2 separate regions of the Homo sapiens genome follow, and region 1 is linked to region 2. The links come from fine-mapping of genetic effects on gene expression. A gene starts in region 2. The other region holds a variant in brackets. All regions are shown on one strand. Distances are between the middles of the regions. Region 1 overlaps IQCE (IQ motif containing E). Region 2 holds the start of TTYH3 (tweety family member 3).

Region 1 (12,752 bases), 20 kb before region 2:
ACAGGTGTGTGCCGTGCCCAGCTAATTTTCTGTAGAGACGAGGTCTTGCTGTGTTGCCCGGGCTGATCTGAATTTCCTGGCCTCAAGTGATCACCCTGCCTCAGCCTCCCAAAGTGCTGGGATTACAGGCATGAACCACTGCACCCAGCCACATAGCCTAAGAAAATCATTTCAGGATAAATAATTCTCTTAAGATCACTTCAGAGGTCTTGTGGCCCCTTGCTTGATTTAGAAGACATCTATGGAAAGTAGATGAAACCAATAAACTATTCCAACCTGAAAAAACGCTCCAACATGAAAACCTAACCATGTGTGAAATACCAGCTCCTATTAGCCGCTGAAAGGGACTGCAGTGAGCAGCGGGCACCTTGCCATTCCCAGAGTCCCCACTGTGCTGACAGGTGCCATGCCCTGTCAGCTCCCTGGGGCGCCAGTGAGTTTCTCCCAGACTGGGGTGAGTGGGAGCACGGACGGCTCTTTGAGAGAACGTGGCTGCACAGCAGTGAAGGGAGTCACGTTCCCTGCTGCCGTGGCAGCTCTCTCCTCGGCGCCTCCCTCTCGCCCGCCGTTGCCCCGGGCACTCACACCCACTTTTCTCTCCCTGCTTCCTTCCCTGACAGGCGGCTGTGGTGCTTCAGGCAGCTTTCAGGGGACATCTCACGCGGACAAAGCTCTTAGCAAGCAAAGCACATGGCTCAGAGCCACCCAGCGTGCCAGGCCTCCCAGACCAGGTAATGTCGGGGTGCTGGACGTCCCAGTGGCCATCTGCAGAGCTGCTCGTCTCGCACTCCATCCATCGAGAAAGCGTAGGGCACCCCTCAGCCTCCACATCCCCGCCCGCCCAGCAGGCGTCCCCTGCGCTCCATCCCTGGCCACGCAGGCCATGCAGGCTTCTCTGCGCAGGCCCCTCTGCACAGGCCCCGGATGGATGTGGCGTTAGGGCCAGATTGCGTTAAGCTGCCGGAGAGTCAAGTAGCTCCATGAAGATGTAGCTAAAAACTACTAAAGACAGATGCAGGCCATTGCGGCCCCTCCTCTGTATTGAGGACCAGGTTTTTGTTTAAGAATCCCTATAGTAGGCCGGGCGCGGTGGCTCACACCTGTAATCCCAGCACTTTTGGAGGCCGAGGCAGGTGGATCACAAGGTCAGGAGATCGAGACCATCCTGGCTAACATGGTGAAACTCTGTCTCTACTAAAAACACAAAAAATTAGCCGGGCGTGGTGGCGGGCGCCCGCAGTCCCAGCTACTCAGGAGGCTGAGGCAGGAGAATGGGGTGAACCCGGAAGGCGGAGCTTACAGTGAGTCGAGATCACGCCACTGCACTCCAGCCTGGGCAACAGAGCGAGACTCCATCTCAAAAATAAATAAATAAGTAAATAAATAAATAAATAAATAAATAAATAGATAAATAAGAATCCCTACAGTTTAAAAATTCAGAACCTGCCACCAGGAGGCTGTTCACTGACCAGCAATTCCCGGGAGGCAGGGCCATCTGAAAAGGAAACTGAGCTCTTCCTGTCTCCCTGACGCCCAGGGTGCCCTGGGGGTTGAGTGCTGGGAGCCAGCAGGGGGCTGCCAAACAGTCGTCTTCCCTGCTGTCCTTGCACCCCAGAGCTCTCCTGTGCCCCGCGTTCCGAGCCCCATCGCCCAGGCCACGGGCAGCCCTGTGCAGGAGGAGGCCATCGTCATCATCCAGTCCGCTCTGCGGGCACACCTGGCCCGGGCCAGGCACAGGTGAGTCAGGGTCACGGGGACGTGGGACACAGACATGGCACGAGAGGCTGCCCACCGCACTGGGCCCGGAGCACTGGGTGCAGGGCATGTGGCGGAAACTGGAGCAGCGCCTGCCGCCTGCCAGCGGGACCTCGGTTTGGAGCCAGAGTAAAGGCTTCACATCCTGAGGACTCCCTGCTGCACCACGGACGTGGAGTGGGCTGGAAGGTGTGATCCTCGGGGGAGGCCTTTCCAGAGTCGCTTCTTCCCTACCGGGAGGAGATGAGAAGAGGAGCTTCACACACCGTGTAGCTCAGGTCACCATCAGTCTGTGGCCTGGCTTTTGGCTGTGCTGATAGGTCATCCCTGTGAAAGAAAACTGTGTTGTGACCTCCGTGTTGGACACGGCATATGACAGGCGACGCGTGCAGGGTCTAGATGGCAGCGTTCCCACAGGCCTCTTGGTGGGTTTGCTAGGACTCTCGGTTGCAGAAATCAAAACCCCTTGAAGTGAGCCTGGCCGGGGGGAGTTTACAGTAAGGGGAAGAGACGGCCCCGCTCCGTCACCCCCGTCTGCTTCACCCCGCATGGGGTTTGTTCCCCTCTTATCACAGACTGCTCTGGTTCTCAGCCTCTGTGGTGGAGCCGCGCGGCCACCCAGCACTTCCGAGTGGGCAGTTTCTCCCTCCAAGGCCGCATCTGCATCTCATGGTCCTGACCCCATGTGACCTGGGACACACTGTGGGCTCAGGAGTCAGGGACCCATCCCTGGGCGGCGAGCCCCAGCCAGGAGGTGGAGGGCCATGCAGCCTGCAAGCATGTCCCCGGGGAATGGCAGCTGGGCTGACCCAGACAGGAGACAGGGAACGGAGCCGTCTGAGGCCAGCTTATAAAACCATGCCGGCCTGACCTCAGCATGGTCCCCGAGGAGATGGACGGGGACGTGTCTGAGGCTCTTCACCGCCGGACGTTTCTGGACCCTGGGTGCATATTGGGTACAGCGCTGGTCGTGGGGCTCGGGACTGGCTCTGTGTTTGCTTTCATTGGAATACTTGCCTCCAAGCAAATTACTGAGGCTGCTGTAAACCTCAGAGAGGTTTGTACTCTCTAAAAGCAGAATCAGCTGGCGTTTTCTGTTTTTTTCCAGTGCTACCGGTAAAAGAACCACCACCGCAGCTTCTACCAGGAGGAGATCGGCTTCAGCCACACACGGGGACGCCTCCTCCCCACCCTTCCTCGCAGCTCTTCCTGGTAATTTCATTCATTTGGATTCTGGCACCAGGGCAGCTGGTCTGCTGAGGTCTCAGCCAAAGAGTGGCCACCTCCAGGAAGCCCGGGCTGTGTCGGGACGGAAGGGAGGAGTGTCCCATCTGGAGCTGCCTCTGAACTAAGCGTCGCCTTATGCCAGGAAGGCCCACAACAGGGCCCCGCCTTGGCCCAGCTTGTCCTTTGTGCCTGGAATTGCCGAGGTCCTTGCTGTCTTTATTTTTTGCTCTCAGCTCCAACAGGACCGAGGTGGCTTCCTCCTTCAGGCCAGCATTTCTCCTGTTTGTTTGTTGAGTAAAACCGTGTTATTGTTTCCTTTTCTACTTTGTTAAAGTCCAAAAACAGTCAGTGAAGAAGCCGCTGGCACTGCAGGATGCCACACCCTGGTGTGAGGCCTCATCCCTGCTCTGCCCGGAGCTGACGGGGATGCCCCAGCAGGCCCTGCCTTTCTCTGGCCGTCAGTCCCTTCATGTTTAAAGTAGAGAACGGGCTAGACAGCTGGAAAGCCACTCTCCACCCCAAATCTATGCTGCTCTGCGTGGACTTGAGATCCCGTGTCTTATCCTGCAATTAGAAACCCCCCATTGACACCTCCTGTAAAGGGAAGATGAGTGCGGAGGCACGCTGTTGAGACTCGGGACTGTCGGGAGATGGAGAAGGGCAGCCTTAAGACCCTGTTGAGGAGGGGAGTGTGGCGTGCGGGGCTGTTTCACGTGGGAAGTGTCAGGCGAAGGGCTTTGCTGTGCTGAGTCCTTAGGTCTCCAGGGTGGAGTCAGGGAAGGAGGAGAGAGAACAGCAAGGAAAACCACAAAGGAAGAGGCTCTTCTGAGCCCAAAGGGTGAGGGTGAGGAAGGCCAGGGGGTGAAGGAAGGGTGAGGCCTGCCCAGGACCCACATGCCTTAATTTGAATGTCCCTTCAGGACGGGCCCAGGGAGCCGGCAGCCCCCCAGTACCACTCCAGTAAGTGTGGGGGCCCGTGGCGGGCGGAGGCCTCGCTTTCCTGGGAGATCCCTCCTGTGCTGACGCGGAGTCACGGAGTTGGGAAGAGGCCGTTTTGAGGCCCGCATCAGACCTGGAGCCCGAGAG[C/G]CTTCCCTCCCCAGGGGGTCCCGCTAGGGGCTGTGTTTTAGAGAGTCTCCTGCACGAGCTAAGAACCGTATACCACGTTTGACCTGGAAATACCACGTATGAAATCACATTTTATTTTCATTTTTTAACCTAGTTTCGTCAGAGCTAGAAAACTTTGAACTTTGATATTCTCTCCAAAACTTCCATTTGTAAAGCTCAACACAAAGATGAGCAGCCTGGGGTTTCGGGGAGAATGTACAGACACGCAAAGCGGTCGGGCCGGCCTGTGACTCGTGGGCTCTGCAAAAGGCTTTCAGTTGTTCTCCGGGAGCCGATTCTACCGGCTTCGCCAGACCCTGCCTTTGGTGACCTTTAGAGGCTTTGATCAGGGCTAAAGCGTGCGTTGATGCTGCCCTTTTCTCTTGCTCAACGCAAGTGATTTTAAAGACGCAAGTTCATCCCCGTGACCCAGGGATTCAGCTTTATTGACCTAAGGAAATGTCTCTGTGAAAAGTATAAATCAAGCTTTTGTTTGAGCTGATTGGTTGTTTTTGAAGATAACCATGAAAGCTGTTTTTAATTTCATAAGGTTCCCCTTTAATATGAATTTTCTTGAAAGTTGCAGGAAAAAAAAGCTGACACAGTTACAGTATCTGCGGCATGGCCGAATTGCCATTTCCTTCCCTTTTTAAAATCTCACATGAGCAGTTCATTACTTTTTTACTTTCGTCTTTCAAGGCAGCGACACTCAGGCTCCCCGGCAAGGAGCTCTGGGGCTGCTGCTGTGGTAGGACCCGTCCCTTCTTCAGCTCTGGTACCCACCTCCATCCCGTCTGTAGGTGGCGTCCCATTCTAGAATGGATTAAAAGTTTGGAACGCTCTAGATGCTTAGGAAGGAGCATCCAAGGGGGAATGGCCGAGCAGCTTGCAAGCTCACAGCGATCCGTGCCTTGCCCCCTCCTGCCCTCTATACCAGTGGCCAGCGAGTTAACAGGGAAGTTGGCTTTTTTTTTTTTTTTTTTGAAGTGCAGTCTAGCTGTGTTGCCCAGGCTGGTCTGGAACTCCTGGGTTCAAGCCACCCTCCCACCTCGGCCTCCAGAGTCCTGGGGTTACAGGCATGAGCCACTGCACCCAGCAGAAACGCTCCTACACACGGGTAGCCACCCACCCAGGCCCCAGACTCCTGGACTGCTGCTGTGGGAATGGCTTTCAGGGAATGACTCCAGTGTGGACTCGAGGTTCCTCCATGCTGGCAAATGTCTGCTTTTGCAGGTGTTTTGACTGGGGGAAATGGTGAGAATACTCAGAGCTGAGTTTGAAGGTGAGGAGAGTGAGGCTTTCTGGCAGGTGTGTAAGTTGGTCCTGAGGCTGGAGAGTGAGGCTTTCTAGCAGGTGTGTAAGTTGGTCCTGAGGCTGGAGAGTGAGGCTTTCTGGCAGGTGTGTAAGTTGGTCCTGAGGCTGGAGAGTGAGGCTTTCTGGCAGGTGTGTAAGTTGGTCCTGAGGCTGGAGAGTGAGGCTTTCTGGCAGGTGTGTGAGTTGGTCCTGAGGGCGGAGAGTGAGGCTTTCTGGCAGGTGTGTGAGTTGCTCCTGAGGGCCTGTGTGCCCCATGGCTTACTGCTTCTCGGGGTGGCTGCCGTCTTGCCTGCCGGGGAAGAGCAGACAGTGTAAGGGTGTCCGTGGTGGCAGCCCCTGAGGTCAGCGTGGCTGACCCCTCTCCCTGTGGTTCATTTCTGCAGACCCCTCTCCCTCAGGGCCACAGGCCTTGGCACCTCTACCTGGGGATGACGTCAACTCCGATGATTCCGACGATATTGTCATTGCACCGTCTCTGCCCACGAAGAACTTTCCAGTTTAGGTCCCCGTCACTGTCTCCACGCCGTGATGGCAGCGCTGCCGAGGACATAGGAACCACGACTGGAAAGATAATTTATCGTGTTAGGAGAAGAACGATGATACCTACTTAACACCTCAGCATCTGCGTCGTGTCTCTTTGTGCTTTTGTTTGTGGAAGGAGACCCAAATGCCTTTACTTTATTCTCTGGGGAGGGCCAGCGGCTCGCATCCCCCTCATCTCCAGCTGCAGCTCGGATGGTGGATTTTCAGTGCCAACAGACACATCTGCCGTGAACTCGCAGATGCCAGGGAGCCCTGTAGTGACACGTTCTCTGACAGCACCTTGCCGCCTGCCCACGACCTTGACCGTGAGGAGCTGCTATCCGCAACCAGCGCCGACACCATGCCCCCTCTTCCTGGTGACACCCTCAACAACCAGGATTTGCTCGATCTCAGCCCAGCAGGCCAGGCAGACACACCCCGCTGTGCCTTAGGAAGGTGTGAGACCGGCTTCCCCCATCCCCACAGCAAAACACGGCCTGTCCCAAGCCAGTGAGGAGCTAAAGACACCCAGGTCCCCAAATGATCTTACTCCATGCCCCACCCGCTCACACCGTCCTTTCCCGTCACCCTTGCTATCCCCTGGAGCACTGCCCTCCAGAGCTGCCCTTCCCAGGAAGGAATTTGGTTGGATTCTGTCACTGTGGAGACCAAGATTTTTTAAAATTCCCAATTACAAAAGCAGCATCACACTTGCTTCTGAGAACAGCAGGGTGATGTCTGTTCCCAAGCTGGTGGCGGGAGCCTTAGCCTGTGTGGGGCCACCCGGGGAAGAGGAGGAGAGGAGGGTGAGGAGGCAGGCTCGCCGTTCCAAGGGACAGCATAGGCTCGTGGTGGGGCGTGTTGCATCTGGTGTCTGGGACAGTCCCCGTCACCCCATGTGTGCGGCCTCTGCACTCCCAAGCTCCATGGCTGGGCTGGGCTGGGCTGGGCTGGGCTGGGCCGGGCGTGCGGAGCCTGTGGAGCCAGCAGCTGCAGAGGCCTAGGAGGGAGTTCCTGGGGGAAGCGCACAGTGTCCAGTGCCCATCTCTTGCTTGTGTGTGAGATTAGCCCTTGCTGGGGCGTCAAGAGGAAGAGCCTTAGACCTGGGCGGGCCTTCAGGGGCATCTAGACCCCTGCACAGCCCAGGCCTGGTGTCTGCATTTCCACAGCACCCCTGTGGGGACTCCTGCCGGGGCTGGCCGCTGTCTCAGGAGAGACCCAATGGTTAGAAAGCCCCTTTTTACACAGCTGACAGCTTCTCCCAAGGCTTCCGTCCACGGGGACAGGCTTAACCCCTGGGCGCCTTTTCTGCAGCATGGCGGCCTTCTGAGTCACCTAAGCTGAGCCTGGGTCATTCTCTGTGGCGGTCAGAAGGCCGATGGCCCCAACACAGTGGCTTGTGAAAGGGAGAGAGGAGGCTCTGCATGTCCACCTGCTCTATGGGAGGAGGACACAGGTGTCCCCAGCCCAGCCTGTTCTCTCCCAGTCACTCAGGGATGGGGCCACCCAAAGTGCAGGACCCGCCCCACCCTGCGGTTCGAAGCCTGGCCCCTGTCTCCACTTAGCTTCTGTTTCTGCAGTGGGTGGAAGCGAGTCAGCGGGGGGCCTGGCTTGTGTACGTGTTTTCCTTATTTGGTCTGTGGGTTGCCAAGTCCATTTTTTTTTCCACTGAACTGGCTGGTAACTTGATGGACTGTGTAACTGACACAGGCCCTCTTTAGACCCCTGCCTTCACCCCACCCGCCCGGGTCCACTCCCTGGGGCGCTGTCCCAAGCCATCCCTGCTTGCCAGCTCAAAGCTTCAGGTCCTAGGAGCCAGTCCACCTCGAAAGCCCTGAGAAAGTGAGACACCTGCACATTCGCTGGGGGAGACCCTCCGTTCTCTTGTGGCAGCTGCTCCCACTTGTTAAACCAAGCTGTTTCTGCGGGACGTGCTCACTCTTGGGAACCAGTGGCCTAGAGCTTTGGGTTACAGGCATGGAGAGGGCTTTCCTGCCTCAGGCTTGGAGGCCAATGTTCCATACATAAACCGCCATGTCCTCTGGTGCAGCTGGGCTGCTCTTTTAAAAGCCAGCATCCATCTTGAAGCTCGCTGGGTAAATGGCAATGCATTCTCAAGCCAGTGTCTTCAGCTGATGCCCAGTGTCCAGTGCTGGTCACCAGTCCCCTTTGCTGGGTACAGCCTGCCTGGCTGTTCTGTGGTCCTGGAACGCTGCAGTGTGGTTTTGTTCCATGGAGACAGTACCAAGCGGAGAGGCCTCCTTGCCCACGGCCCCAGGGCCTGGGGGCCAGGGGTTCTGGCCCTGCGGGGACTTAGGCAGGAGGGGAAGAGAAGCCCATGGAGCCATGGGAGGGGTGAGCTGTGGGCGGGGCCTAGTCATGGGAGGGGTGAGCTGTGGGCGGGGCGAGCTGTGGGTGGGGCCTAGCCATGGGAGAGGTGAGCTGTGAATGGGGCTAGCTATGGGTGGGGTGAGCTGTGGACAGGGCCTAGCCATGGGAAAGGTGAGCTGTGGGCGGGGCCTAGTCACGGGAGAGGTGAGCTGTGGGCGGGGCCTAGTCATGGGAGGGGTGAGCTGTGGATGGGGCCTAGCCATGGGAGGGGTGAGCTGTGAGTGGGGCTGAGCCATGGGAGCAGCAAGCTGGTGGAGTGGGCTGGGCGGAGCTGTGGGGGCTGCTGGCAGGGCCTAGGAAAGTAGACAACTCCCGGGGGAGACGAAGTAGAGAGTGAGTCCCCAAGAAAGGGACTCCTGCCCCAGCGTCAAGTGCCAAAGCAGGCCCCATCTACCACTTCAGGGTCGACGTTGGTGGCAGGTGTTGTTCACGGTGTACTGATTGTCACTGCAACACCTCCACATCACCTTGAACTTCAAGAACAGCAGCAAAGCTGTATCTGCTATCAGAGGCTGTTAGGTAGTCCAGCTTTAAAATAACACACTCTTTCTCTATCCCATGCCCTTTAAACAAGCAGCCACAGGAGATGTCAGTCTCCAGGGCCTGGCCCCACTGTGTTGACAGCAGTCACGTCTGTTGAGCTGACACTGCTGAGGCTGAAGCTGGCCCCGTGCAGGTGGCTGGTGAGCCACAGGTGCAGTACCCGGAGGTGTGCTCTCCCCTAGAGGCCTGTCCCCAACTCCTCCCCTAGAGGCCTATTCCCGCTGCTCACAGACCTCAGCAGAGGCACCAGCTGGAGGGCTCCAGGGACATCCTTGGAGATACAGGAGGCTTTCCTGGCACAGGGCACAGCTCTTAGGAGGCCTTTGTAGGACGCTGTCTCCCCAGCGTGTCCTGCTCATCCAGGATGGGGAGAAAGAGGAGGAGGCCCCAGGCTCAGAAGCCAGGGACAGACTGCCGACGATTACCAAACTGAATCCAGGCAGTGCCATGACCCTGGGTGTCCCTTGGTTCACATCACCCACCAGACAGCTGCGGAGAGAGTGCAGGGAGGGGCTGGGACCAAACAGGCCAGAAACCAGCAGAAAAGAGGCAGAAGTGAGGTGGGTGTGCCTGGGGCACGAAGCCAGCGCCGGGGGGATTTCAGTGGAGCCTTACAGCCAGGCTCCGTGCGGACTGTGATGCCAGAGAGGCGTGCAGCCTCTGGGCAAGTCGGGAGAGGGCTTGGGTGGTCCCCACAAGGCAGAAGAGGTGGAAGGGCCAGAGAAGACCACCAAGACCACCGTTCCCGCAGGCCTGGGGTGAGTGACCTGACTGAGACTAGCGGGCAGAGCCAAGCAGGGCTAAACTCCAACCCAGGGCCCGGTGTTGGACAAAGTAGCTTTTTCTTTGCTCGTTTGTCTGTGTATTAAGAAGAGACTAAAATAGCCAAACGACGCTGGTCGCATGCGCTGGCTGTGGTCTGTCTGCTGAATGTCTATTTTTGTCTCCTGACGAGACGTGAGGACCATGCCCTTGATCCCTCCGATGGACCAGAAACCCCCTTCCTTGCAAAAAAAAGGCAATTGAATTAGGAAAAGATAGCCCAACCTAGCTCAGATCCACCAAGATAAGCACAGCAAAGCTTGGCTGCATTTTTGAGGAATAAAAACCTGCAGAAAGCACCGATAACCTTCAAGATCTGAATGAGATTCTATTATAACCCGTCTAAACGATTGCAAAATTCCTCCTTTGGTTTTGGAAGCAGCGTTTGCTCTCCCGTGGCTCGGATTCTCTGAGGACCAGGGAGTTGACACACAAACCCCGCCATGGGTCCGAGCCAGCTATTTCTCAAGGCTCCCACCTCGCCAAGCTCCCAAGGGCCTGCTGGCAGTGCCTACGCTGTGCCAACTACCCTGTCTGGTACAGACCACGGCTGGGTAAGCACCCTTAAAAGCAACAGAAATGACGTCTGGAAGCTGAAATGTGAAACTGTCAAGATGGCTTAGGAGAGGAAGGAGTGGACCCGCTGGTCTTTGGCATTTTGTATTTAGAATTATTCTAACTTTATACATAATGTATAGGCCGATCTTTTGGAAGGGATAAGGTTTTCATTCTTGTGCAACTCATTATTCTCATTATTGGCCTTTTAAATAAAAAGTTGTTTTGCAGTGTGCCTTGAGTGCCCCGTGAAGACTTCTCTTTAATGACCTCCAGGTGTGTTCCTGCCCCACGCACTCGGGCTGAACAAACGATCCGCTTCAGAAACCCCGCTTCTCTGGGCTTCTGGCATTTTGCCGTGGTCGTAATGCAGGCTTGGGGTTGGAGAGCCAGCTGGAGGGACGGGTCCCGCCGCCAGCTCCCTGCCACGCATGAACTCGGATACATCTGTTGACACCCCGGTCCCCCGTCGAATATCTATTCCTTAGATATGAGGACACAAAAATGTGCGTGCGTGAGGGAGTTATTTCTCCATATTTGATTTCATTTTTGTTTCAGGAGCAGGGAAAGAATAATTTACTGAGGAATCAAACACAGATGGAAACGACCAAAAGGAGCTGATATCTGGGTTTTGTTTTCCAATATTTTGTTGCATAGAACAAGGAGCATCTGTGGCTTTGTGTGCTTGTGGCTGCCTGCCCTGGGGCCCTAAATCCTGAGTGGAGTTTGTCCGAAGCCTCCACAGTTACTGTGGTTGGCTCTGGCATTTGCCCAAGCCTATTTTCTCTCTATCGATCTTATATGTGTGTGTGTGTGTGTGTGTGTGTGTGTGTGAAAATATATGTATATTTTTAAATTGAGATAGGGTCTTGCTGTCTTGCCCTGGCCGGAGTGCAGTGGTGCAGTCATAGCTCACTGCAGCCTCAAACTCTTGGGCTTAAGCAATCCTCTTGCCTCAGCCTCCCAGATAGCTGGGACTATAGGTGTGCACCACTGTGCCCAACCACTTTTTAAAAAATTTCTGTCACGCCTGTAATCCCAGCACTTTGGGAGGCCAAGGCAGGCGGATCACGAGGTCAGGAGTTCAAGACCAGCCTGGCCAATATGGTGACACCCCATCTCTACTAAAAATACAAAAATTAGCCGGGCATGGTGGCGTGCGTCTGTAGTCCCAGCTACTCGGGAGGCTGAGGCAGAATTGCTTGAACCTGGGAGGTGGAGGTTGTAGTGAGCCGAGATGGCGCCATTACACTCCAGCCTGGGCGACAGAGCGAGACTCTGTCTCAAAAAAATAAAAATAAAAATTCTGTAGAGATGAGGACTTGCTAAGTTGCCCAGGCTAGTCGAACTACTAGGCCCAAGTGATCCTCCCACCTCAGCCTCCCAAGTGGCTGAAACTACAGGTACGCACCTGGCTAATATACAAAATTTGAGGGGTGGGGCACAGTGGTTCGTGCCCGTAATCCCAGCACTTTAGGAGGCTGAGGCAGTGAATCACCTGAGGTCAGGAGTTCGAGGCCAGCCTGGCCAACATGGTGAAACCCCGTCTCTACTAAAAATACAAAAAGTAGCCGGGCGTGATGGCACATGCCAGTAATCCCAGCTACTCAGGAGGCTGAGGCAGGAGAATCACTTGAACCCGGGAGGTGGAGGTTGCAGCGAGCCATTGCACTCCAGCCTGGGCAAGAAGAGCAAAACTCCGTCTAAATAAATAAATAAAATTTTATTTTGGTGGAGGTTGCAGTGAGCCATTGCACTCCAGCCTGGGCAAGAAGAGCAAAACTCCATCTCAATAAATAAATAAATAAATAAATAAAATATATTTTTCTGGTAGAGATGGGGCCTTGCTATGTTGCCCAGGCTGGTGTCCAATGCCTCGCCTCAAGCGATCCTCCCACCTTGGCCTCCCAAAGTGTTGGAATTACAGGTGCGAGCCACCGTGGCCTGCCCCGAGCCCATCTTTACACTCCGATGGCCTGTGTGCTGTCCTGGCAAGCGGTTCATTTGCAGACTTGCACTTTGCAGACGAGCTGGTAGGGCCTGAGGGAGCCTGTGGCATTGGAGAGCATGGTGCACCAGGCACTCGCCCGCTGCAAGCTCGCTGCCCCCGCAGTCGCCAGCTGTGATCTCCCCTAGGGGTTCAGACCCAGGAGCAGAGAGGAGGCAGCCTGTGGGGGCTTCTCAGCTAGAACTGGCGAGAGGAGGAGAGAGAAGGTCCAACCTCAGGCCTCCACCCACCGTGGGCCGGGGTATGGATAGACATGGAAGTATGTGAGCGTGGACATCCATGCGCACGCGCACAGGCACACGGGGAGAACCCTCTTCCTCTTCCCCATCCAGCCCTCTGGTTTTTGGTGCTCCCAGACGTGCGCTGAGTGCATGAGGGCCTCCTCAAAGACCGAGTGAGGGTCACCACAAGCTCTTGCCAAGACAGTTTTAAATATGAGATTCCTCCAAGGTCCCTGGGGGACATAGGAAAAAAAAGAAGTAAGCCTCTGAGTCCCTCGCTCCTTTCAGCA
Region 2 (16,564 bases):
GGAGTCGGGGCTGCAGCTGAGCAGGTGGGGGAGGCGAGTACCTTCCAGGCCCAGGGAACTATCAGCCTCCTTCCAGAGGAAAAGGGAGCAGGGCCCCCACCTCCAGGATGGGAAGGGCCCCAAGGTGGCCAGACACAGTGGGTCAGGTGTGGCAGGGGCGACAGGGCTCAGGAGAGACACAGAGGCCGGGCTGGGGGACCTTGCCCTGAGAGCTGTGGGAACAGGATCGGATTTGCATTTGAGAAGGGGAGGCTGGGAGCGGGAGGGGACGTCATGGGCTGATGAGGAACCACATACGTGCTGACCCCATGGAGGAGAGAGCCCAGGGCCCCCGGAAGGGGACAGCCTGGCTGTTGGCCAAGAGACGCAGAGGGGAAGGAGGCCTGGCCAGGCAGGGGAGGGGGAGCACATTCCACCTACCCCTCCCCCTGGAATGGAGCCACATCCTGGCCAGCTCCTCCTGCCCCAGCTCCTCCTGCCCCAGCAAATCCTGCCCCAGCTGCTCCTGCCCCAGCTCCTCCTGCCCCAGCTGCTCCTGCCCCAGCTGCTCCTGCCCCAGCTGCTCCTGTCCCAGCTCCTCCGGCCTCAGCTCCTCCTGCCCCAGCTCCTCCTGCCCCAGCTCCTCCTCCTCCTCCTCTCAACTCCTACTGCTCCTCCTGCCCCCACCTCCCCCTGCTCCTCCTGCCCCCACCTCCCCCTGCTCCTCCTGCCCCCATCTCCTCCTGCCCCAGCCTTTCTGTGCTCACAGGGACCCTGTGGAGCAGAGAGGGCTTTCTGGGGTCCACGGAGGCTGGGCTGGGTCCCCAGAGCTGGGCCTCCACTCTAGCCCAACTGATTAAGCCCGGCAGGGCCTCCTGCATCCCACGTCCTCCCTGCCAGGCTGCAGGCCCAGCTGGGATGTCTGGGAAGGAAAATGGGGGTCCTGGGCCTGCAGGTAAAAGAATTCAGCCCAGGGTTCCAGCCAGCACCACCCCCCGCAACACACCCCCCACCCCCCATTGCGGGCGACCTGTGGCAAGCCTGAGGTTCACCATCTGTACCCAAGGGTGTGCTGGCCCTGTCTCTGGGTAGCTGTGAGCCAGTGGGCGGGGAGGGCCTATGCCAGCCGGCAGAGCTCTGGAAGAGCAAAACACCATTCATCCCAGACACACATCCTAAGCGTCTATCCCAGGCCCGGCCCTGGCCCTCATAATATTGCCATCACCATCTCACTTCCAGAAGCCTCTGCCTGCTCCTCTCCAGAGCCCTGCGCCCCTGCACTGCCCCCCACCCCCGGGAGCGATGTGGAGGCTTCGCCAGTCCTGGGAGGACTCTGGACTTGGTCCTGAGGCCCTGGGAGGCCAGGGAGGGGCTGGCAGGGGGGCAGCAGGCCAGATTCCTTGACAGAGATGAACTGGGGCGGTGCAGAGAAGTTCAGGACAAAGGGCAGGGCCTTGCTGCCCCGTGCTCCGGGGGACCTTGAGCAAGACACTTCCTTTTCCGAGCCTCCAGAGCTGAGACTGGCAGGAGTGGAGCTGGAGAGCCCTTCCTGAATGGTGGCTGGCACTGGGTGTGCCCGGAGGAGGCGGCCCTGCCAGGGGCAGGATGGTGATGCCTCTGAAGGGCTTCCCCAGGTGGCCCCTGGACATCTTCACGTGACCCAAAAAAGGCCCCACCTCCTGCCTCCAGACCTTTCCCATGAGATGAGCCCCTCCGGGCAAGTAGGCCACCCCTAGAGCGGCCTCTAGAACCTTCCGTGCTTGTCCTAGGCTGGGGGCTGGAAGAGGGGTGGAGGCCACGGAGGGGCTGCCTGTTGCCCACCTCCACGCACAGCACTCCTCCCACGCTGAGCCGGGTCTCCAGGGTGTTGTGTTCTGGACAAAGCCTCCGGGGTGCTGGGGGGGCCTGCATTCCCTCCTGGGCCCCCTGCCTTGGAAATGGCATGTCAAGGGGAGGATCAGCTCTCCAGAGGATCCCCAGACCCAGCAGCCTGCCCGGCCCAGTGAGGGAGACCCCGGGTTCCCTGGGCTCCTGGGCCCACCCTGACCAGAAAACCAGCCAAGGAAGCTGAGCTGGCCTTTCCCCATGCGTGGGGGAGTGAAGTTTGTCAGATCCAGGCTTTGAAACCTAGAGGGTGCAGGACACTCCCTTGCCCAGGCCAGACAGAGACACAGTGGATGTGGGGTGAGGACAGGGTCCCCCAAGGGGACATGGGGCAGAGCACGCAGGTTATGTGGGGCCTGGCCTTGGACACCCCTTTTCCAGCATAATCCCAGTACCCACCCAGGGAGAGAAGCATGACCCTCCTCCTGTTACAGCTGGGGAAACTGAGGCTTAGAGAGTTGCCTGGCCGAAAGGTCTCTGCTCTTGGAGGGGGAGCAGTGTCTCCTTGGCAGCTCAAGCCTGTGACAGCCTGTGGTCCTGTGAGAGCAGCGGGCGGGGCTCCCGAGAGGGAGGTGAGAATCCATCCGGCAACCCCTCCCCACCCACTCTGCCCCAGCGCCTCCCTCCACGCCCGCTGCTGGCCTGTTTCTGAAGGTCGGTGAAAGACGTCTTACTCACCAAGCTCAGGCAGTGGGGTCGGTGGTCCACCTGCCAACAGCGACTCAGCCAGCCTTTGTCACCAATGCCAATTGCAGCCCACAGAGTGGCCAGATACCCTCTCCCACTGCTCCTGGAATTGGGGCACTGGAGGCCGCCAGGAAGAGACGGTAGTCCTGGGTCTTGATGAATATCCTGCTCAGACTCAGCCGGCTCCCGGCACCCCCAGAGCAGGAATTTACTGGCAGACAACGAACATCCCTTGAAAGCATCAGAGCATTAAGAAAGCTTTCCCCATTTTGTTTTTTGTTTGTTTGTTCGTTTCATTTTTGTTTTTATGTTTTTGAGACAAGGTCTTGCTCTGTTGCTCAGGCTGTAGAGTGCAGTGGTGCAATCACCGCTCACTGCAGCCTTGACCTCCTGGGCTCCGGCGATCCTCCTGCCTCAGCCTCTCAAGTAGCTGGGATTACACACATGTGCCACCACACCCAGCTAATTTTTGTATTTTTAGTAGAGATGGGGTTTCGCTATGTTGGCCAGGCTGGTCTCGAACTCCTGACCTCAAGTGATCCACCCATCTCGGCCTCCCAGAGTGCTGGGATTACTGGCGTGAGCCGCCGCGCTCGGCCCTTCCCCCATTTTGGAGTCCCCGGTATCTATTGTTTCCCTCTTTCTGTCCATGCTTACTCATTGCTCAGCTCCTGCTTATGAGTAAGAACGTGCGGTGTGTGAGCTCACTTAGGATGATGGCCTCCAGCTCCATCCATGTTCCGGCAAAGGCCATGATTTCATTCTTTTTTAAAAAAATGGCTGTTTCCTCAGTGAGTCAGGGCTATGGGTGTGGGATGAATCTCTTCCCTTCTCGGAGCCTCAGTTTCCCCATCTCTAAAATAGGAAACTGGACGCTAAGTTCCCCCGTCGGTGACATGGGTTCCCAAAGGGGTCATAGCAGTTGGGCCAAGCCTGACATAAGTCCCAGGTCTCACAACTCTCAGCACAGTGCTCATTGCAACAAAACCTAGCTGGTGGGTGGGGCTGCGTGGACAGGCTAATTTTTTTTTTTTTTTTGAGACAGCGTCTTGCTCTGTCGCCCAGGCTGGAGTGCAGTGGCGTGATCTCGGCTCACTGCAAGCTCCGCCTCCCGGGTTCACGCCATTCTCCTGCCTCAGCCTCCCGAGTAGCTGGGACTACAGGCACCCGCCAACACGCCCGGCTAATTTTTTGTATTTTTAGTAGAGACGGGCTTTCACCATGTTAGCCAGGATGGAATCGATCTCCTGACCTCGTGATCCACCCGCCTCGGCCCCCCAAAGTGCTGGGATTACAGGCGTGAGCCACCGCGCCCGGCCTCTATTTTTGAAATGTTTTGTAGAAATGGGGTCTCCCTGTGTTGCCCAGGCTGGTCTGGAACTCCTGGCTCAAGTGATCCTCCCACCTGGGCCTCCCAACGCGATGGGATTACAGGCGTGAGCTGCCATGCCTGACCTCAGGGCACTATTTTCTTTTCTTTTCTTTTTCTTTTTTTTTATTTTTTATTTTTGAGACGGAGTTTCGCTCTTGTCGCCCAGGCTAGAGTGCAATGGCGTGATCTCGGCTCATTGCCTGTGATCACTGCAGTCTCCGCCTCCCAGGTTCAAGCAATTCTCCTGCCTCAGCCTCCCGACTAGCTAGGATTACAGGCATAAGCCACCACGCCTGGCTAATTACGTATTTTTAGTAGAGATGGGGTTTCTCCATGTTGGTCAGGCTGGTCTCGAACTCCCGACCTCAGGTGATCTGCCGTCCTCGGCCTCCCAAAGTGCTGGGATTATAGGCATGAGTCGCCATGCCTGGCCTCAGGGCACTATTTTCAATCTACACTGGGCTTGGGACTCTGAGACCCGGTCTTGATAGTCTTATGTGGCAAGTAGGGAGGTTCTGAATGAGACACTCGACTTAAGTGATGGGACTTGGGACAGAATTCTTGGCAGCTCAGAGGCCATCCCCACTGGTCTCCTGGCTCCCAGTGGCTTTCTGGACAAGGCGAGGCTGCTGGCCAGGTGAGCCCAGATAATGAGAGGTGCTCACATCCTCACTCTGGCCAGGTGTGCGTGGCTTGCTCCGTGGTCCTCTTGGGGACCATGCTGGCTGGCACCTCTCCCAGCCTCCAGAGCTGCGGGCCAGTTGCCTCAGACCCAGATTGAAAGCAGTGCTTCTGTGGCTCCCCTGCGGCCGAGATCCATCAGCCAGGTGTCTGTGGTCCGCCAGGCACCGGCTGGCTGTGCGACCACAGCATCACCCAGCCTCATCTTAGCAGGCGCCAGGAAGCCCAGCCCCGCAGCCTTCTCTTCCCGGCCAGTGAGGTCCGTCTCCACAGAAAATGTGAACCTCTTTGGATGGGGCCCAAACACAGGGAATTCCATTGTTCTGGCTTCCGCCCCAGCATCTGGAGGAGCGGTCCAGGCCTGGCCATGCTCAGCTCAGGCCTGGCCTCTCTCCGGTGCCTGCAGGCCTTTGGACAACCATTCGGGAGCCTCAACCCTGCCGCCTTCCTGGCGTAGGGGAAAGACCCTGGGAGCTCCTGGCCTGGCTGCTCCCCTCCCTCCGTGCCAGACTGCCTCAGCAGTCTCTCACAGACTTTCCCAGGCCTGGTTTTTGCTCACAATCCCTATTTCACTTGAAAGAAGGAAGGGAAGGAGAGAGGGAGGAAGAAAGGGAGATAGGAGGGAGAGAGGGAAAGAGGGAGGGAGAAAGGAAGGAGGGAAAGATGGAGGGAGGGATGGAGGAAAGGAGGGAGTGAGGAAGAGGAGGGAGGGAGAGAGGGAGAAAGGAGGGAAGGAGGGAAAGAGAGGAAGGGAGGCAGGAAAAAAGGGAAAGAGGGAAGGAGGGAGGGAAGGAGGGAGGAAAGGAGGGAGGGAGGGAAAGAGGGGAAAGAAGGAAGGAGGGAGGGAGGAAAAGATGGAGGGAGGGAGGAAAAGATGGAGGGAAGGAAGGTGGAAGGGAGGGAAGGAGAGAGGGAGGGAGGAAACGAGGGAGGGAGGAGGAAGGAGAGAGGAAAGGAAGGTGGGGGGAGGGAGAAAGGAGAGAAAGGGAGGGAAGGCAGGAGGGAAGGAGAGAAGGGAGGGAGGACAGAAGGAGGGAGGGAGGGAAGAAGTGGGGAGGGAGGAAGGGCCCCTGGAACTAGGCTGAACCCTGGTTCCCTGACCAGCTTGTGATTCTCAAGGCCTCCCATGCAATGGCGGGGACCGGGCCTCAGTTGCTCCGTCTGTAGAGTGGGACTAAAGTCCAGCCTCCAGCCACAGTGGTTGCAGGACAGATGGGAAGAACCACACAGCTCTGGGCAGTGACTGTCGGGTCAAAGCAGGTGGGATGGTGGGCGGAGCTTCCTCCATGCCCTGGCCCACACTAGATCCTCTCTCTGGCCTTCTCTCCTTTACCCTTCCTGGCAGCTGGAGGGAGGGACCCACGGAGTTTCTCTTCAACACCCGGATCCCAAGCAGCATTGCACGGGGGTGAGGTAGGGACTCTGGCTGTGTTCTTCCAGAACCTTCACTGTGGGCCCCTTATTCTCTCCACCCTGGATCCCTTTTACCAAATTCTTCCTCCACAGGCCCCTTAGGAATAGATTTCATGGCCCAAACACACTGCAAATATTACTCAGTCATCAGTACCTTTTCATCCCATACCATCAGAGGCACAGGGCGCTGGCCACCAGGAAGCTCTGAGAAAGCCGGTGTGTTTGTTTCTGGATTTGCCGTGACAAAGCTCCACAAACTGAGTGGCTTCAAACACAGACATGCATTGTCTCACGGTTCTGGAGGCCAGAAGGCTGAGATTGAGGCGGGGCGCTCTGAGGGAGGGAGCGCCCCAGGCTTCTCTGCCAGCTTCTGGTGGCCCCTCGGCGTTCAGGGCTGTGGCGGCATCCCTGAGATTCTGCCTCCGTGTTCACACGGGTGCTTCCCTCTGTGTCTCTGTATCTCTGAGTCTGTGTCCAAATTTATCTTTTCTTATAAGGACACCATCTTTGCATTAGAGAACACTTTAACCCAGTATGACCTCATCTTCACTGGATTACATTTGCAAAGACTCTCATTTATTTATTATTTTTTTGAAATGGAGTTTCACTCTTGTTGCCCAGGCTGGGGTGCAATGGCGTGATCTCGGCTCACTGCAACCTCCGTCCCCCCGGGTTTAAGCTGTTCTCCTGCCTCAGCCTCCTGAGTAGCTAGGATTACAGGTGCATGGCACCACGCCCAGCTAATTTTGTAATCTTAGTAGAGACAGGGTTTCTCCATGTTGGTCAAAGTGGTCTGGAACTCCCAACCTCAGGTGATCCGCCCGCCTCAGCCTCCTAAAGTGTTGGGATTACAGGCATGAGCCTGTCACCCAGGCTGGAGTGCGGTGGCACGATCATAGCTCACTGCAGCCTAGATCTCCTAGGATCAAGTGATCCTCCCGCCTTAGCCTCCCAAGTAGCTGGAACTACTGTGGTGGCACAAGCCACCACACCCAGCTGATTAAATTTTTTTGTAGAGAAGGGTCTCACTATGTTGTCCAGGCTGGTCTCAAACTCATGGCCTCAAGCGGTCCTCCTGCCTTGGCCTCCCAAAGTGCTCGGATTTCAGGTATGAGCCACTGCTCCCGGCCCCTTTCTTCAAAGAAGGTGACGTTCACAGGTGCCAGGAGTTAGGACTTGAACATATCTTTTTGGGGAACATAATTCAATCCACTACACCTGAGTTATCATTTCTTTCTTTCTTTTTTTTTTTTTTTTTGAGATGGAGTTCGCTCTGTCACCCAGGCTGGAGTGCAATGGCGCAATCTCGGCTCACTGCACCCTCCACCTCCCGGGTTCAAGCGATTCTCCTGCCTCAGCCTCCCGAGTAGCTGGGATTACAGGCATGTGCCACCATGCCTGGCTAATTTTTGTATTTTTTTGTAGAGACGGGGTTTCACCATTTGCCCAGGCTGGTCTCGAACTCCTGACCTCAGGCGATCTCCCCTGCCTCGGTCTCCCAAAGTGTGGGGATTACAGGCGTGAGCCACTGTGCCTGACCCTAAGTTATCATCTCACATCATGTCTGCATCAGACTTTCTGGCTTTATCAAAAGGAAAGGTACAATTTTGCCAGGCTTCTGGAAACAGGGGAAGGAACTCCTGTACCCCCTGCCTGCATGTGTGTACCCTGGCAGGGCTGCCAGGCTGGTGTGGAGGGCACTGGAGTTGTGGTGGGGGGAAGCAGGAGGTCTGTTTGTGGCCATGGGAGCTGCTGCTAACAGCAGGAACCAGAAACGATCTCAGGCCATGAGGACAATTTCTGCAGCTGGCCAGGGACTGCCCTGTTCATCCCTGGAGTTATGCGACACAGAACTCTGAGGTCAGAGTCAGCCCAGGGCACGGGCCGTGCAGGCGATCCCCTGGCTGTGGAGATGAGGTCACAGGCTGGATGCTGGAGCAGTGTCAGGCTAGGAGTGGGCGTCCTGCCTAAGCCACCTGTTCACAGTGAGCAATCAGCTGGCGCCAAAGAAGAGGACTCACCTGGCCAGGTACCAGCCCACTCCAAGTAGGTAGCCTTGGTCTTAGGGGGTTGGGGGGGGCTTCATTCTGCCTGGAGCTCCCACCATCCTTGGCATTGGAGAGAGAGGAACCTGAGCCAGTATCCCCACCCCACCCCAAATTTCTGGCTCTTCGGCCTTTAGGGATGGAGAATGCGACCTCCCCCCTTCTGCCTGGCTGTTATTTCCCAGCTGGGTGGTGTCTCCAAGTTATCCAGCGGGTGGAAACCGCAGCTCAGCTAGTCCCTCTTGCCCGGTGCCCTATCACAGGAAAACAGGCGAGTCAGGGCAGTCAATGAGCCAAAGTCCAGGCCTCCTGGGAAGACACTGCCCGGAACCGTCCCTGCCTGCAAAGAGCTCTTCCTGCCAGGAACGGCCTGCCTGCCCACAGAGCTGGCCAAGTCGGGCACAGCAGATGGTGGAGCCCGGGTGTGGAAACCTGTTTCTCAGTACACAGGAGGTCCAGGAATAAGGCCCCAGGTGATGAAGCAGAGCCAGGATGCACCCACTGCCCTAGAGTGCGGAGGGAGGCGTGCACCTGGGCCCAAGCACGCACTATGTCCATCCTCCTGGCTCTGGCAGCTCCCATCTCCCCTTTAGCAAAGGAGGAGGCACAGGCATGGGGAGGCCCTGTTAGGAAATTTGGCTGTGTGGCTCCAAAGCCCATGATGGGCCCTCTCTGGCAGGTGCCTGAATTTTTAGGCCCCAGGACACCAGAACAGGGCACCGTCTTCATCTTAGGTCTTGACAAAAGACTCAACCTTCCCCAGAGGGAAGGCCGGATGGGGACTGAATCTACCTGCGGATCCACTTAACACTCGTACCTTTTTAAAAAAAATTTTTTTTATTTTTGAGATGGAGTCTCACTCTGTTGCCCAGGTTGGAGTGCAGTGGCGCAATCTCCACTCACCGCAACCTCCATCTCGCAGGTCCAAGCAATTCTCCTCCCTCAGCTTCCAGAGTAACTGGGATTACAGGCGCCCGCCACCACGCCTGGCTAATTTTTGTATTTTTAGTAGAGACGGGGTTTCACCATTTTGGCCAGGCTGGTCTCGAACTCCTGACCTCAGGTGATCCGCCTGCCTCGGCCTCCCAAAGTGCTGGGATTACAGGCATGAACCACCACCACGCCCTGCCAACACTCGTAGCTTTATCATCCCCTTTTACAGACAAGGACACCGATGCACAGAGTGGTTAAGTAACTTGCCCCAGATCACACAGCTCTAGGTGCCCCAGCCAGGCCCTGAATCCAGATCATGTCCATTGTACAGATAGGCCACTCGGTGCCTTGCTGGGCGCTGCGGGCTGTGGGCTGTTGTGTGTGCAATGGGGAGGCCAAGACCAGCCCAGCCCACCAGGCCGGACCCTCGAGTCAAATAAGAAACATGCAAAGATCCAAACGAAGAGCGAATTCATGGAATGAAGCGCAGCTGCATATGCAGCCAGGGTTCCAGCCCCCACGGCCACGTGGAAAGACTGGCTGGCCCGGGTCTTACAGCGCTGAGGGTCGGTCTTCCAGCGCCTTAGGGGCCAGGCGTCCCTCCAAGAAGGCGAGGAAGTAGGCGGAGCTTCTGCCGGCGGACTAATGACGGTACAGAGGCGGGGCCGAAGGGCGGGGACACGTGGAGGGGCGGGGCCATTGGGTAATGGGCGGGGATGCGAGTGGAGGGGCAAAACCATCAGGTAAAAGGACCAATAGAGGTTCAGGAGCGAGTGGGCGGGGCACGCTGTGGGGCGGGATCGGCGGGGGATAGACCAATGGTGGGTAAGAGGCGGGACAGAGGGCGGGGCGCGCGGGGGCTGGGCTGGCGGGAGGCGGGCCAATGGAGGCTCGGGGGCGGGGCCGGCGGGCGGACGGGCGGGGGTGCGGAGGGGGCGGCGGCGGCGGCGGCGAACAAAGAGGCGGCGGGCGCGGGCGGCCGAGCGGAGCCGAGCGCAGCCGAGCCGGGCCGAGCCGGGCCGGGCCGGGCCCAGGAGCGCGCGGATGATGCGGGCGGCCAGGCGGGGGTCGACGGGTCCCTGAAGCCCGCGCCCCGGGCCAGCAAGGGAGCCCCGCGCAGGCCGCGCGCATCCGGAGGCGGCCGGGCCCCGCCATGGCCGGGGTCAGCTACGCGGCGCCCTGGTGGGTGAGCCTCCTGCACCGGCTGCCCCACTTCGACCTGAGCTGGGAGGCCACTAGCAGCCAGTTCCGGCCCGAGGACACCGACTACCAGCAGGTGACATGGGCCTCTCGGGGTCGCGGGGTCAGGGACCCCAGGTCACGGCCCCCTCCTCTCCCAGGGTCACGGCCCCCATCCCCGAGGGCCTAAAGACCCCTCATCCCCCCCTCCAGGGTCACGGCCACCTCCTCCTCGCAGGTACCGGCCTCCTTCCTTCTCGAGGGTCCCTTCTGAGTCCTAGGACCCTTTCTTCCAGGGTCATGGCCTCCTCCTCAAAGGTCTAAATACCCTCCAACCCCCAGTGAGGGTCCACGGCCCCCCTCCCGATTCTGGCCTTCCCTTCTGGTGTCACTAAGGCCCCTGGGTTTCATGGAGCTGCCTCTCCCCACTCCGTGAGCCCCCTTGGCCAGTGGAGGGCCTCTCCACCATCACTGTTGGCGGCCTGGTGCTGTGTCCCAGCAGAGACCCCTCCCCAGATGACCCCCAGGCTCTGAGATCAGAGCGGGTGCCTGAGCACATTGGGTGCAGGCAGGCAGAGACTCCTCGCCCACTCACCCCCGACTGGGGAATCCCACTGCCAGGCTTCCAGTGGGTGAATGGCCTGGGCCGCCGCCAGCCCTCTGTGGCCGGTAATGACCCCCTGCTTGGCGGTCAGGCTGTGGGATGTACACAGGGTGCCGTGTGTGGCCGTGGGAGACCAGGCTGCCTGTAGCCCCCGGGGGAGGGAGGCCCGGCGGCCAGGAAGCACCGTGGGCCTCAGGCAGGGAGGCTGGAAGCGGCTGAGCCCAGGCAGACCTGGGGGGCGGCTGGGGGCCCTTTGCAGCCCTCTCCCAGGGGAGCCCTTAGCCTGGCATCATGCCAGGCCCCAGCACCACCCCCATCGCCAAGCTACTGTCATTTGAGTGCGGGGCAGGGGACCAAGCTGTGGGCATTTCCTTCCTGCCTAGAGATCCGGATTCCAGAAGCCCCGTGACCAGGGTCCCTGGTCACCCGGAGTTTCTCTCTGGACGGATCATGGCAGAGCCCCATGGTGGGGTGGGGATGGCTTTGCTTATCAAAATGGCTTGGGAATCCGGTATTCCGCGGGCAGCCTAGCACCTGGACTCTTCAGAACTGCGTTGTCTGTGGCCTCCCGCATCCAGAGGAGGGAGGCGGAAGTGGAGGAGCAGGGCACCTGGGAGCCCACTGCTCCCAGCCTCGCGCTCACTTGCACCCAGGCCCCCCAGCCGAGCCGATGACGTTTCCTAACAGATGAGGAAGGGGGCGAGGGATCGGCCCAGGCACGCCCAGACACAGCAGGGAGGAGGGAGGCGGAAGGATTGGTATAAAATCTCACGCCTGCGTTCTAGAAGCCCAGCCCTGGGGGACCGTTCAGTGTGGGGGCAATGCACATTCAGGAACTTCTGGAACTTATTCCATGCTGATGGCTTTGCCACTTGTCCCTGGAGGACTCTGTTGAAGCTGCAAGGAGGGTGTGCTTCACTTTGGAAAGTTCTCTGCCCTGAGGGTTTGGCCCATTTGTCAGTTCTTAAGCTCCGGGGCAGCCCTGGGGCGTGGGGGGCGGCTGTTTCCTGCTGCCCCTTGGGCTGCCACCTGCCCGAGCTGCCAGCCACAGTTGGACTTCCTTCCAGCCCTCCGGGGTGCCTGCATTCCCACATTCGAGACAGGCAGTGAGAGGGAGTGAGGGGCGATGATGTCTGCAGCCCACAAGAGCCTCCGGGCAGTAGCCAGGCCCCTCTGCTCAGCCTGACCTGCCTGGCCTCCAGCAGGGTGCTATGGCCCTGGGAGGCCCTGGCTTCTGCCCCCTTTCCTCCCCTGCCCTGCGCTCTGCTCTGCTGTGGGAGGGCTCTGACTCACTCTCTCTCCTGCCTCATCTCCACAGAGCAGAATTAGCCACTGAATAATTCACGATGTGGAAACCGGCCTGCCTCCATCCCCCGCCGCCTCCACTCCCGGCTCTTGGCGAGGGGCTGTGGCGTGAGCTGGTCCTGGCGTGCGTCCTGCCCCTGCCCTTCCAATACTGGTGCTTTTCGGCAACTGCTTGGTGTCTCTGAGCCTTCATTGCCTCATCCTGAATCTGGGCTGGCCGTGCCTCCTGTGTAGGGTCACCCCTGGGAGGCAAGGGCCAGGAGCCCCCTTCCTGGGAGAATGGGCAGTGGGTGGGCCTGGGCTGTGGCAGGCGCCCCTTCCTGCCTCCCCTGGTGAGGAGTTGCTGGCTGTAGTGGGGGGTGGACCCCTCACCCATCCTGACTGAGGGCTCCCTCTTAGCTGTCTCTGTGCTGCCCCAACCTGGGCTGTGCCCTGCTGGGGAGTGGGCATCTGCCCCGTGGTTATGGGGGCGGGGGGATGGAGGGGAGGTGGGGCCTGGGGTTGGGAGTTGGGGGTGTGGCACGGGGGACTGGCCTTTGTCCTTTGCTATTTCTGGCCCCCGTGGTCTGCTGTTGGGAACCCTGGTGAAACCCCCGGAGGGACCAGGGCCAGGTCCTGTTTCAAGGCCCTGCGTGGGACTGCCTGTCACTAGTCACTTTTCCCACAGCCCCAGGAGGTGGGGAGAGTTGTCCATTGTACAGATTAGCAAACTGAGGCTCCGAATCACATAGTGAGTAAGTGGTGGGGCCGCAGCCCTGCTGTAGGTCCCTCGTCCGGCCCCCCGAGGAGCCGGGGTCAGCCTGGAGTCGCAGGCTCCCCGGATTCCCCCACGGCTGCCTTGCCGCTGGGGGTGTGACCGTGGGATTAGAAGCTGATGGGGGCTGAGGGAGCTGTGAGAGGGCAGGGGGTGGAGGGGCATCTGGGGTCGGCTCTGTGCAGCTCCCCAGCCAGTGACTGTCGAGAGGGGCTCCCGTGCTGCCTGAGCATCTGAGTGAATGGGGGGCTGTTGTTCACAGGAGGGATTTGGAGGCCCACAGGAGGCCTGAGACTCCCTGGTGGCCCTGCAGCTGAGCTGGCAGGGCTGGGCCTGAGGCCTCTGGCGTGGCCCGGGGCCAGTCAGTGCTGCATAGTGAGTCCTGAATGTCAAGTGGGTCTGGCTGTCCTGCCCCGGGCAGGGGCCCTTGAGGGCAGCAGAGCCTTCTCTTCAGCTAGAGCATCGCAGGCCTGCACCCTCGCTCTGTCGCTTCTTCCTGCGTGACCTTGGGTGGTCCAGACACTGTCCTGGGCTTTATTCGGGGGAGGCCTGCCTGCTCAGCTCCCACCAGCCCTTTGTGACCCCGTGTCCTCAGGCAGGGATCAAGTTCATGCCCACTGACCTCAGCCTCTCTCTCGGGCTGTCTCCTCCAGCTCAGGGCAGGCCAGATGCAGGACAACAGCTACGGACTGTGGTGGGTTGCGAACCCAGGCGGTGGGAGCCCAGTGGTCAGGGAAGGCTTCCTGCAGGAGGTGGTGTTAACTGGCTTGCCATGGAGGTTGCAAGCCCGGCTGCCGACAATCAGAGGGTTAGGATTTGCCTGCTCATTTCTGACTCCTCCATGGGCCGTGCTGGCCCTGGCAGGTGATGGTTTCACTGGGACATCTGCCTTCCAGGGCAGATAGTGGGCCCTGCCTCAGTTTGCCTAGCATGGGGGACGTGTTTTCCACTAGAGCCTGGAATGCCCAGATGTTTCTGTTGAGACCTTAATGATAAGACTGAGGTCACCATACAGAGACCTTGGGGAAGAGCTTCTGGGCTGGGGGAACGGCAGGTGCAAAGGCCCTGAGGCAGAGAGAAGCTTGAGCCTCGGGGAGAGGCCTCAGCCCCACGTGCCAGAGGGTCGCTCTGGTCTGACTGCGCACGGGGAATGTGCTGCCTCAGGAACTGGTGAGCCCTCTGTTCCAGGCACTGTGCCAGCCCAGGCTGGATGGCCACTCAGAGGGGATCTGAGCTCTGGGAGTAGGGCCAGTGTTCTCCTAGCAGAGTTGGGAGCCTGGCTCCTAAGAGCACAACACCTCTGTCTGTGCCGCCACAAGGTGAGGTCAGCCTTGTGCCCAGTTGCAGCCTGGGGGGCAGTTCCCTGGGGCAGGGCTGGCCTGTTATCATCCTCCCCACTCATCAGAAGGAAATGAGTTCTGGTTAAAACGGCAGTGTTGGTCGCCTGTCGCCTGTCTTGTCATTTACGAAAGCAGTACACGTTCATGGAACATTTGGGGAAAAGGGAAGAGCGTGAGACAGAAGCGTCCCTCCAGCTGGGTTCAGTCCAAGAGCATAGAGCTGTAGGGTGGGTGTCCCTGAGAACTGGAATCCTATTGCTTTTGACATGTCTCGTACTTTGGACCGTGTTCCAGATGCTTGTCCAGCGTCCCACGGTGCCAGGCAGGATTCTGTACCTACAGATGACAGAAGCGGGCCAGACACGGAGGCCCCCGGGGAGCTGGGTGGAAGCTTCAGGAGCAATCCCTGAGTGGACAGGAGCTGATGAACTAGGCTGGGGGTGTACAGCGAATGGGACCCTGCATTGGGGGGTGGAGGTGGGCAGGAAGCCCCTGATGGCTGGTCCCAGTCCACTCAGGATTTCCATCTTGGCCGGTGTCTGCATTCCTGGGGAGACTCCGATTGGCTGAGCTTGCCTTTTGGCCAGGGGGTGTGAAGCTGTGGGCCCTGGACCTGCTTGGGGTGGGTGTCAGGCCACCCTTGGCCCGGCCGCTGCCCGCATCAAGGGTTCCTATATCTGGGCTCCTGGTTTTTGTGGTTCTGAGGGTACTCTGGCCACCTCTGTCCCCAGGAGACTCTGGGGTTCTCAAGCCCCTTCCTTGGAGTGCAGCAGCCTGGGACCCTCTAGAAGTCCCCGAGGTCTTCACGGCTTTTTGTAGGTGTGGATGTTGGGGTGGTTATTCTTGCTCAGGGTGCTGGCTCCCTGATCTCCCCAGTTCTAGCATCACCAGGGGCCACTCCAGTCTGTGTGTGCGGGACCCCCGCCTGCCCCCCACTCGCCTGAGACTCGAGGGCCAGCTCTAGGACCCCTCTTCTGGGCATCTCCATGGTGACCCTTCTTCCTCCCCTGACCCCTGGGCAGGCCCTGCCAGCCAACCCCGTCTAAGGGATTTGCAGTGTCAGCCGCTCTGACCCCCGGCCGGGGGCTCTTGGTCAGGCTCTGGGGGAGCGGGGAGCCCTGCAGCTTGGTTCCCCAGGCCACGGCGGCTCTCCCCGGATGCTTGTGCTGCTCGTTTCTAAAGCACTTTTCTTGGAGAGCCACCCAGTGGCCCTGGGAGGTGGACACTGTGTCCCCGACATAAGCAGAAACGGGGGCCGGCCAGCATGGGGGGCCGGAAGACTGGGCACGGGTTCCAGCTGCAGCCCAGCCACGTCCGTCCCAGTGGATACAGCGTCAGCACAGTTCGTGAACCCAGGGGTGCAGGTTTAGGGGGCTCAGGGGCATCTACACTTCCCCCACCTGCCCCACCGTCAGTTCTGCTGAGGCCTCGGCTAGAGAAGAGGAACCGAATCTGCAGCCAGGGGCCTGGGGTCAAGGACATGGGAAGTGCCTGACGTGGCCACCGGGGAATTGGCATGTGACAGCGGGTGGATGGTGGGTGTGGGAGGGTCACAGGAGGGCCTCCTGTACCCGGGCCTGCCGCTATGTTCTGCAGGGAGCCCACCCAGGCCCTGTGCTGGGCCTCACACCATCCGAGGGGGCTTCTCACAGTCTTGGGAGGCTGGCTGAGACCTGAGTCCTGTGGGGCAGCACCCACTGTGGCTGGGTCAGGCCCATGTTGGCCGAGGGTGTGGGAGGAAGCCGGGCCACCCACAGAGTGCCAGTGCCTTCGGCCTCTGAGGAGGGTACCAGCCACAGTGCCCCTAGCCGTTCTGCCCCCCTCGGGCCTGTGCACGCTGGCTGGGTTCCTGGCCATCGTGGAAGAGCACTCCTGAAGTTCTGGGGTGCACCCAGCTCTGAGCCCTGCAGCCCTGTGTCTGGGGTTCGGCCGTGCCCTCTGGGCTGCCTCTCCCTGGTAGGGAGCTGATCCCGGAGATGGGGCTCCAGTCTGGCGGCTCCTGGCTGGGTCTGAGGCCTGGGGCCCGGTCCCCAGGCAGCTGGTGCAGAGGGCTGCAGACAAGTGGGAAGAGCAGGGGATTTTCCGGGTGTCACGCTGGGAGATGTGTCGGAGCACGGGGACCAAAATAGACACGCTTGCTGCAGCTCTTTGGTGTCTGTTCCTTGCACGAGGGGGAGGGCGGGCGTGGGCAGCGGGAGAGCTGGGGTCCCCCGGCTACAGGGTGCAGGAAAGGGGCCCGGCCTGTGGGGAGACGGGCAGGAGCGGCTCTGAGCCTCAGCCCCAGGGCTGCCTCTCTGGCCTCCTTCCAGGCCATTCCTGGAGGGTGAGGGCCAGCCCGGAGGGAGCCCCGGGGGGTGTGGGGCCATGTGCAGCCTGGCGACCTGGACC

What was found.
Region 1: its variant is fine-mapped to the expression of TTYH3 in whole blood (TOPMed, PIP 0.99).

What each region holds. Positions count from the first base shown.
Region 1 is chr7:2,604,261-2,617,012 of GRCh38, forward strand. IQCE (IQ motif containing E) reads left to right here. Exons shown (of 22, transcript NM_152558.5): 19 at 621-731; 20 at 1,616-1,737; 21 at 2,864-2,967; 22 at 5,784-10,468. The coding sequence ends at 5,902. LOC107986760 (a long non-coding RNA gene) reads right to left here. Exons shown (of 3, transcript XR_001745069.2): 3 at 10,323-10,716. Among named protein-coding and RNA genes, the nearest start is that of TTYH3, 21 kb to the right of the region's middle. RefSeq lists enhancers at 5,813-6,386, 6,387-6,960. The variant C/G (reference allele first, on the strand shown) is at 4,069.
Region 2 is chr7:2,622,009-2,638,572 of GRCh38, forward strand. It overlaps TTYH3 (tweety family member 3), which reads left to right and starts at 9,978. Exons shown (of 14, transcript NM_025250.3): 1 at 9,978-10,270. The coding sequence starts at 10,148. LOC107986760 (a long non-coding RNA gene) reads right to left here and starts at 180. Exons shown (of 3, transcript XR_001745069.2): 1 at 1-180. RefSeq lists silencers at 187-481, 9,919-10,328 and enhancers at 1,271-1,780, 9,403-10,134, 10,867-11,599, 11,379-11,488, 12,332-13,064 and 2 more.